Linked DNA regions of Homo sapiens: all the other regions are linked to region 3. The links come from fine-mapping of genetic effects on gene expression. A gene starts in region 3. Each other region holds a variant in brackets. All regions are shown on one strand. Distances are between the middles of the regions.

Region 1 (2,762 bases), 22 kb before region 3:
ATTCCCATCGCGTATGCTGGGAAATCATCAATATACCCGCTGTCATGGTGAGTTAGTTTGTCTACTTGAGAATTTCCTAGAAATATACTAAAAAATTGTGTCTGTATTCTGTCACTCAGCAATCATTTTTTGAAACTGAGCCAAGCTGTTGTATATGCCTGTAGTTCACAATGTGTTATTGCTAAGTAGTATTATCTTTTATTTACTCACCTATTGATAGACGTTTAAGATTTTCCAGGTTTTTTCTATAGGTATCCAAGTAGAAGTCTTTTTATAGACATGTTTTTATACTCATTTATACACAAGATGTGGAATTTTTAGTTCAAATAATACCTGCATATTTAATTTTTGTAGGAATTGCAGAATCGTTATCCAAATGGCTTTGACTTTTACCACTACTCCCAGCCATGCACCAGAATTCCGGTAGCTGTACACCTTTATTAACACTTGGTATTGTCAGTCTTTATATTTTAACAATTCTAGTGAGAGCGTAGTGTCATCTCTAGTGTATTTTGAATTTAGGTACCATCAATTTCATCAACTGAGTATTTCTCATATGCAATTATTTGAGGTTTGACAGATGTATGTAGCTATATACCCACAACCACAGTCAAGACACTACCAAGTGCCATTACTTAAAACATTCCCTCCTGATGTTCCTTGGTAGGCAACTGTCCCTCCCTATTTAATTCCTGTAAAAACACTAATCTATTCTCTACCCTACTGATATGCCTTTTAAAGAATGTCATATAAACGGAATCATTCAAAATGTAGCCTTTAAAATCTGGATTCATTCACTTGGTTTAATGCATTTGGGGCTCGTCCATGTGATGGGGTGTTGTTTTTAAATTGCTGACTCATACCTCACTGTTTTCATAGATCCCCATTTTGTATACATTTACTGGCTGGTGAACATTCATATTGTTTTTAGGTTTTGGTGACTGTAAAGTAAAACTAGTATAAATATTCACATGCAGATTTCTGTGTGTGGACACTAGTTTTTTTATTTCTCTTGGGTAAATACCTAGGAGTCGGGTGCTTGGTCATATGTGTAAGTTCGAATTTATAAGAAATTGCCAAACTGTTCTCCAAAGTGGGTGTACCATTTTACATTCCCACCAGCAGAATATATGAGTTCTGGTTGCTCTAC[G/A]TTTTCATTAACATTTGGTATTATCCGGATTTAAAAAAAAATTTCTTTGGGTTTTGTTTTGTAGCCATTCTAATAGGTATGTACTGCTACCTCATTCTGGTTCTAATCTGTGATTTCGTAGCAGCAAATGGTGTTGAGAATGCTTTCATGTGATTATTTGCCATCAGTTTTTCTTATTTGGCGAGGAGGCTGATCAAATATTTAGTGCTTTTTAAAATTTGTGTTAAAATATACATTAAAAAATTACAATTTTAACCATTTTTCAGTGCACAGGTAAGTGGCACTAAGTACATTCACACTCTTATGCAATTATTAATCATTGATCTCCAGAAATTTCTTCATCTTGCCAAATTGAAACTCTATACCAACTAAATGATAACTTCCTATCCCATCCTGCCCCCAACCCATGGCAACCAACTTTCTACTTTCTTTGTCTATGAATTTGAGCACCTCTGGGAGATTGTGGGTAAGAACTGAGAAAAATTCTTCTTCTCCAGATCCATTTCTCTGTTCCTTTTTGTGTTTCTGCAACATGACCTCAGTTCTCTCAGGAAGCCCCAAAACCTGTGAAACTAACCTGTGCTTGCAGCTCTGCTTGCTGCCAGAAACAAAGGCTGGGAGCCAGCAACAGGAACCAGCCAGGGGATGAGTTCAGCCCAGACGTGCTGCCTGGACCTGGATTCCTGCCTCAGTGCAGGCCTTGACCTGATTTCTTGCTTCATTACCATACTAAAATCTCCACTCAGGGGCGAGAACTATGCCTTGCTAGGCACAGAAGGTGCCAAGTACAAAAGAAAACACAAGAGTGTGCACACTTCAGCCCCTCCTGAAGGAACCCACCTTTTTCCAGATCTGCCCGCCTCAGTCTCCAACTACCTGCCCTAAGGGCCCTTAAGATCCCCTTTTACCAACCCCTGGGAGAAGGTGCTTTGCACATGAACTCCCTTTCTCCATTTCTTGATCAATGAATAAAGTTTCTTCTCCGCTTTGCCGATTCTGGTCTCATTCTATTGGCGTAAGTGGCAGGGGGCAGAGAAAGGACCCACTAGGGCCAACTCACCCCTCCAAGGGTGGGTAACATTTGCAGCAAAACTCCTCAAGAGGTTGTTTGTCGTCACTCTTCCTACCTTCCTTTCTTCGGTTATTTTCCAAACGAGCTTCCAATCAAGTCCCCCACCCTTTCACACATGTTCATCAAAGCTGCCATTGCCAGTTATCTCAGACGTAAACAAAATCAACTCAATATGGATTAAAGATGGAAATGTAAGGCCTGAAACTGTAAAACTCCTTGAAGAAAACAGGAGAAAAAGCTTCTTGACATTATCTGGGCTCAGATTTTTTTAGATACTGTAAACTAAAAATAAAATCCTAAGCCCTGTAATCAACTGAACAGACCCCCTCTTGGCCAAGGGGACCCCAGAAAAATCTTAAAAACTGAGTTGCTGCTACAATGGGACGAGAGGTCAGACACACCTCATTATAGCCCCTTCCTTTTGCAGTTGAGATGCAGCAACTGATTAACCTTAATATGGAAATGGAGATCATAAGACTGGCAGAACAGACTCTGTGGCAATGAGATACCAAATCATATACAAAACCTAAGGCCATGCCA
Region 2 (2,762 bases), 31 kb before region 3:
GGAAACTGAACCAAGTTGTTGAATGTGCATTGTAACATCTCCAATCTGGACCCCTCTCTTGAGCTCCTGACAGTTACATCCGGCTGTCTCCCTCCTAGTCCCATTCTGATGTCAGGTGGATTCTCAGAATTAATCATTCTCTAGGAAAGTCCTTCCCTCTTCAGTCCTCTATGGACAAAGCTCCTTCCTTCCAGGTGCCCAGGGGAACATTCCGGCCTCGTCCTTTGTATTGCCTTCCCCTCACTGAACACATAGTTAGCCTGTGATCCTTATTAGCTTGATCTTCCACACACATCCAAAAACATGTCCTCACCCCACCCTGCCTCGCTGGCTCAGCCCTCATCCCTCCTCCTGGAGGACCCAGCAGTGCCTTCCCCGTCTTCCTGTGGCTGCCATGACCCACTTGGGCCTGCTCTGACTCAGGCATTTGAGGTCAGAGTGAGAGTCCAGTTGTGTCTCTGCCCTTCCCAAAGGCTCCAGGCTCCTGTGCGCGCTGCAGCACCCCACGCAGTCTGCAGCTTCCTTCCTGCTGCTCCCTCCTTACCCTTCCTCTGCTCTAAGACATGGGGCTCTGGTTGAGCCCACAACCCCCAGGCCTGCTGCTGCCTCTGAGCAGTGCACTTGCTCTTCCCCTTATCCTTTTCCTGGGATGCTTTTCTCTTATTCAGACTCAGAGCCCGCCTCTTCAGCACCTTCACGTCTTTGCCTAAATGTCACCTCTTTCCACTATCAGATATAGAAACTGTTTCCCAGTATAGTCTGTGCTTATTTCCCTGTGTTATTTTTCTCTAAACAAATATCTCTATCCAACATGGGAAAAAATATTTTACTTATTTCTTTTTATTTGTATCCTTCTGCTCTTCAGAACAACAGCTTGATGACAGAGCTCTTTGAGTCTATATCTATTGATGAACTTCTTGCACATACGGAAATGCTGGCACATAGTCATTATATGTATTCAGTATGGTTACTGAATATGTCTACAAATTAATGAACAAATGCCACATCTCCGCTTAATATCATACAAGGATTACATAAAAATACACACACCTGGATGACATTTAAGACAACCTGAAGGATGATAAGGACCTGGATTGGCAGGAATGGGGAGGAAGGCCATTTCAGGAGAAGTAACTACACATGCAAAGTCTCAGAATCACAGAGGGCTTGGCCTGGTGGGTGTAGGGAGACTTCGGGTGATGCAAGGAGAAGGGGGATCAGGAGCAGAGTCCAGCAGAAGACAGATCGTGAAAGGCCTTCAGTCCAGGCAGTGGCATTTGCACTTCATTCTCCAGCAATGAAGA[G/A]GAAACATGGCCATTCAGACTGTGGAGGAACTGGATGAGGAGACATCTGGAAGTACAGTCTGGAGGCCTGTGTTGGGGAGAGATGGAGGCAGGAGGTGAAAAGGGTTCAGTGATCAGGGAAGAGGTGAGGCCGCAAGAATGACCAGGGTCAGGATGGAGAAAAGGGCATCAAGATGAGCCCTGCTTAGGAGAAGGAGGGACAAGAGCTAGTAATTTATGGGATCTAGAGAAGGGAGGGGGGTCAAGATGGAGACCCACACCCAGGTTCTGACTTTAGAGATGAGGCCTCTTTGTCATCTGCAGGATGAAGAACCCACATCCCAGGAAAAGTAGGTTTGAGGAGGAAGACAGTTGGCTTAACTTTGGCCATGATGGGCAGAGCAATCCTGGAGGCCATTGTGGAGGAGTTATCCAGCAGGATGTTGAAGAGTGAGAGGCCCACATCACTCACCTGAGAGATTAACCCATGACAGCATATACATTCTCCTCAACCTCCACTGCCCTCACCGCCTTCTTCTTGTGGAAACTGACATTGAGTGAAGAGACAAGGACCTGTAAGTGTGGCCACATGAAGGGAGCAAAGGGCAGCCAACTCAACTTCCTGTGCCCTGCTAGAGGCTGGAGGGATCACAGGGAGGAAGAGCAGGTCTAGACTTCCTTGATGACAACAGGAAGCTCCCCATCCTGGCATTTGGCCCTCAGTTGGGACAGACACAAACTGACCACAAATGGCCCATGTGTAATTCTCACCACCAATTCAGCCTCCAGCCTGGCCCCAGGACCACGTAAACTGTCTGCATACCCCCAGGATTGAGATTCTGGGATTCAGCATCATGTCCTCTGCCCTCCCCATGCCTGTCCTTGGTCTTCAGGCAGTGCTTACCTGAGGATGATGAGGCAAAGGCAGAGAAGCAGGATCTTCACAGCCACTACCCCCACGGCCAAAACAACCACCTCTTCCACGGTTCCTGATTTCCCTGCAAAAAGGTGGGATGAGGCCCATTCACCTGCTAAACCACAAACCATGTCCTTCCTCTCCCAAGACAACTTGGACATTGGTTCTTCAGATCCTTCCTGCATCCTTGGATGTGGTATCACATCAGCCCAGGGCTCATTCTAAGCTGTTCCCTGACTGTCCAGCAGTTGGAAGAAGAAATGATACATAATTTGGACTTTATCAAAATTAAAAACTATTTTGCATTGATTGGCACTATCAAGAAAGTGAATAGACAACCCACAGAATGGGAAAATACATTTGTAAAGCACAGATCTGATAAGGGTGTAGTATCCAGCATATATAAAGGGCATGTAATTTACAAACCACTCAAATTACAAACAACCCAAATTAACCTATTAAAAAGTAGACAAAGAACTTGAGTGAAAACTTCTCCAAAAAGATACAAATATCAATTGGTCTATGAAAATATGTTCAATACCATTTATCAGTATCTTAATGCC
Region 3 (2,762 bases):
CACATGCTATAGGAACTGGTTCCCTCTGCACAGAGTGAAGGAAACCCTGAAGCTCAGAGACCCTAGAGACCCACCCAGGGAGGAGAAGAGACCGTGTCCCACCTCCTACCTCCGGGCTTCCCTGGAGCACCAGGGCCTGCACCAGACACGTAGGTCCTGCCCTCCCGGCCTCTGGACCATCGTGGAGGTCCCTCCTGTCTTTTGAGCATCTAAATGTGGATCTCCGAGGACCTCAGGGCATGAGAGATGGAGGGGCCGTGTGCTGAGTCTCCCTGTCCAGGCTCAGGTGCCTCTGCTGCCCTTGGTTTGCGCCAGGAAGTGCTTCCTCCCTGGCCTGGCCTGAGAGAGTCACGGGGTTGTGTAGACCTAAGGCTCTCAACTGGGGAGGACTTAACCCCCCAGGACGTTTAACAATGTGTGGAGATAATTGTTATTGTCTCACTGCATGGGTGGAGTGGGTGCTTCTGGCATCTGGTGGGGAGAGGCCTGGGATGGTGCTAAACCCCGGCCATGCCTAGGACAGGCCCCAAAACAAGGAGTCATAAGGCCCCACATGCCACAATGCCAGCGTCAGAGGCAGGATGAGGATGTCAGGCCTGTGGGTCAGGGCTGGTGAGGGGAGGGGCCTGCAGGATCAGGAGGGGCATCCAAGGTGCGGTCCTGGGGAAGCTCAGGCTCTGGTCCAGCTCCTCTCCTGAGTCCATCACCCCCGGCCCCCTCCCAGGACATGTGTCCCGTCTCAGCCGTGCCCTAAAGCCCTCATCACATTTGCCTTTGGCCTCTCTTGGAGCCCGTGCCTTACCTGTCACGTTCACAGAGAGCTGGTCATATTTATAATTCCATTTTATATTTCCTTTCTCCATACGAAAGAAGTATCTCCCCGCATCACTCATTCTGGCATCTCTGATGCTCAGGGTGCAATTTTTGGTCTGTGGGTCCCCAAGGAGGTGGAATCGGTCCCGAGTTTCCTCCTGCACTGCCCAAGCTGGGTTGTTTGTGGCCACTGGAGCCTTCCAGCTTATATCATTCCCTGCCCGGAACCAGTAGCCATGAACTGGGTCAGAGTCAGTCTGGCTGTCCACTGGGTAGGAGAAGGAGCAGCGCACATGGACACACATGCCCTCTTGCACGGTCACGGAACTCTGCATCGTCAGCGAGTAATCCTTCCGGTTACTCTTCTGTCCTTCCACCCTCTCCCTCCCCCAGAGCAGGGGCAGCAGCAGCAGCAGCAGCATATCTGGGGTTGGAGGTGCCAGGGCCGCGAGGGAACGTCTGTTCCTCAGGGTTCTTCTCTCAGGAACTGCGGGCTCAAGACTTAGAAGAGGCCCTACAGGAAGTCGGTGGTGAGGTCAAAACAGTGACCTCCTTAGAAGAAGAACTTCACACACAGACACTGTCAGGGCTGGGTCAGCCCTGGGAGATCCACCGTCCACCACCCGACATTCACTCCTGGGTCCCTGAGGCCAGAGCGGGAGACAGACTCACCCAGATTCCCACCCCATGCAGGGCCCACCCCACCTCCTGCCTCCCTCTCAATGCCTTTCCCTTTAGGTGATATTTTCTGCAGGGTGAAAATAACTCCCATCTGCCCAGACCCCTGAGTCACAGGCTGTGGATGTCTGCGTAGCTCAGAAGTGGGACTCGGGGCCATGAGAGACAGGGGTGCAGGTGGGGTGAACAGGCAGCCTCTCATCCCTCCCTCAGCAGCCACGAGGTGGGCACCCCCTTTCTGCACAATGAGGTCAACACAGCAGAGCCGGACACTGTCCCCAAGGAGTCACTGTGTGGTGGGGAGACACTGAGTCTCCTGACGTTTGAGCTCCCCATGACAGGAGCTTCAGTGGGGGGCACAGGCAGGGTGGGGTCACTCTCCCCTAGGTCGGGGGTTCAGTCTCAGGAGGACCGAGCAGACGGACATGGGGCTGTGAAGGTGAGGATTGCGCCTGTTGATACACGCCAAGGACACGGAGGGGAGCCCAGCCTGCAGGAGGCCGGGGAAGCTGAGGCTGTGATTGTTGTATTGTGGGGCTTGGTAGACAGGAAAGTCATAAGGGAAAGGATCAATATGAAAAGAGCAGACACTATTCCCATCCTCACAGCTCTCTGAGCACAAGGACATTTCCCTTCACCACTGCTATCTCATGAGGCCTGGTTAGTGCAGAGTGTGAGGGGTCTGCTGGCCCTGGGGCTTTGCTCCTGCAGGAACTGCTCCTAGGGGTTCAGGTGAACAGGAGACGTGGAGCAAAGACACCAGCCCCGGGGCGTCCACCCTCAGTGATGGGCGCGATTTTCTGAGAGAAGAAACACGCACCTGACTTCAACAGAAGATTATTTTAAACTGTGTGACTGGGCTGGGAGGAAGTGGGAAAAATCCTGCAAGCTGCAGCCCCCTTAGATCCAGGCCAGCTTTTCTTGAAACAGTTTTTTTTGAGCGGGGAGAAACACAAGACATGTACATAAAAGTGTCCCCTAAAAACCAACTCAGTGATTCACACAAAATAAGCACCCTTGAAGAACTAGAACACAAAAGAACTGTCAAGTCTGTCCCTTGAAATGAAGAAAGAGATTTTATTAATTCATTCACCCTTACATTCCCCTTTCCTATTGGCCATGCCCCCGCTCCCTCCTGAAGGAGCCCCTAGCCTCACTTTAATGATAATAGTCTTCCTGCTGTTCTATGTAGTTTTATCATCGGCACATGCTGCCTTGAAAATTCTAACTTCACGTAGGTTTTCCTGAAGATGTTGTATACATAGAAAATC

Alleles and levels. Positions count from the first base shown, and alleles are read on the strand shown. Sizes are in standard deviations (SD) of each study's normalised expression. Not every link is listed here.
For the expression in monocytes of the gene that starts at base 1,304 in region 3, G is the high allele of the variant in region 2 and A is the other (large effect, 2.0 SD a copy in Kim-Hellmuth 2017).

What was found. PIP is the estimated chance that this variant, and not a neighbour inherited with it, causes the effect.
Region 1: its variant is the best candidate, but not a certain one, in a credible set for the expression of SIGLEC7 in monocytes after interferon gamma (Fairfax 2014, PIP 0.61).
Region 2: its variant is the best candidate, but not a certain one, in a credible set for the expression of SIGLEC7 in monocytes (Kim-Hellmuth 2017, PIP 0.67).

What each region holds. Positions count from the first base shown.
Region 1 is chr19:51,162,506-51,165,267 of GRCh38, reverse strand. LOC101928517 (a long non-coding RNA gene) reads left to right here. Exons shown (of 5, transcript NR_110732.1): 2 at 1-47. Among named protein-coding and RNA genes, the nearest start is that of SIGLEC7, 22 kb to the right of the region's middle. The variant G/A (reference allele first, on the strand shown) is at 1,151.
Region 2 is chr19:51,171,585-51,174,346 of GRCh38, reverse strand. All of the region lies in intron 1 of LOC101928517 (a long non-coding RNA gene), which reads left to right. It also overlaps the pseudogene SIGLEC17P. Among named protein-coding and RNA genes, the nearest start is that of SIGLEC7, 31 kb to the right of the region's middle. The variant G/A (reference allele first, on the strand shown) is at 1,305.
Region 3 is chr19:51,140,843-51,143,604 of GRCh38, reverse strand. SIGLEC7 (sialic acid binding Ig like lectin 7) reads right to left here and starts at 1,304. Exons shown (of 7, transcript NM_014385.4): 1 at 803-1,304. The coding sequence starts at 1,235.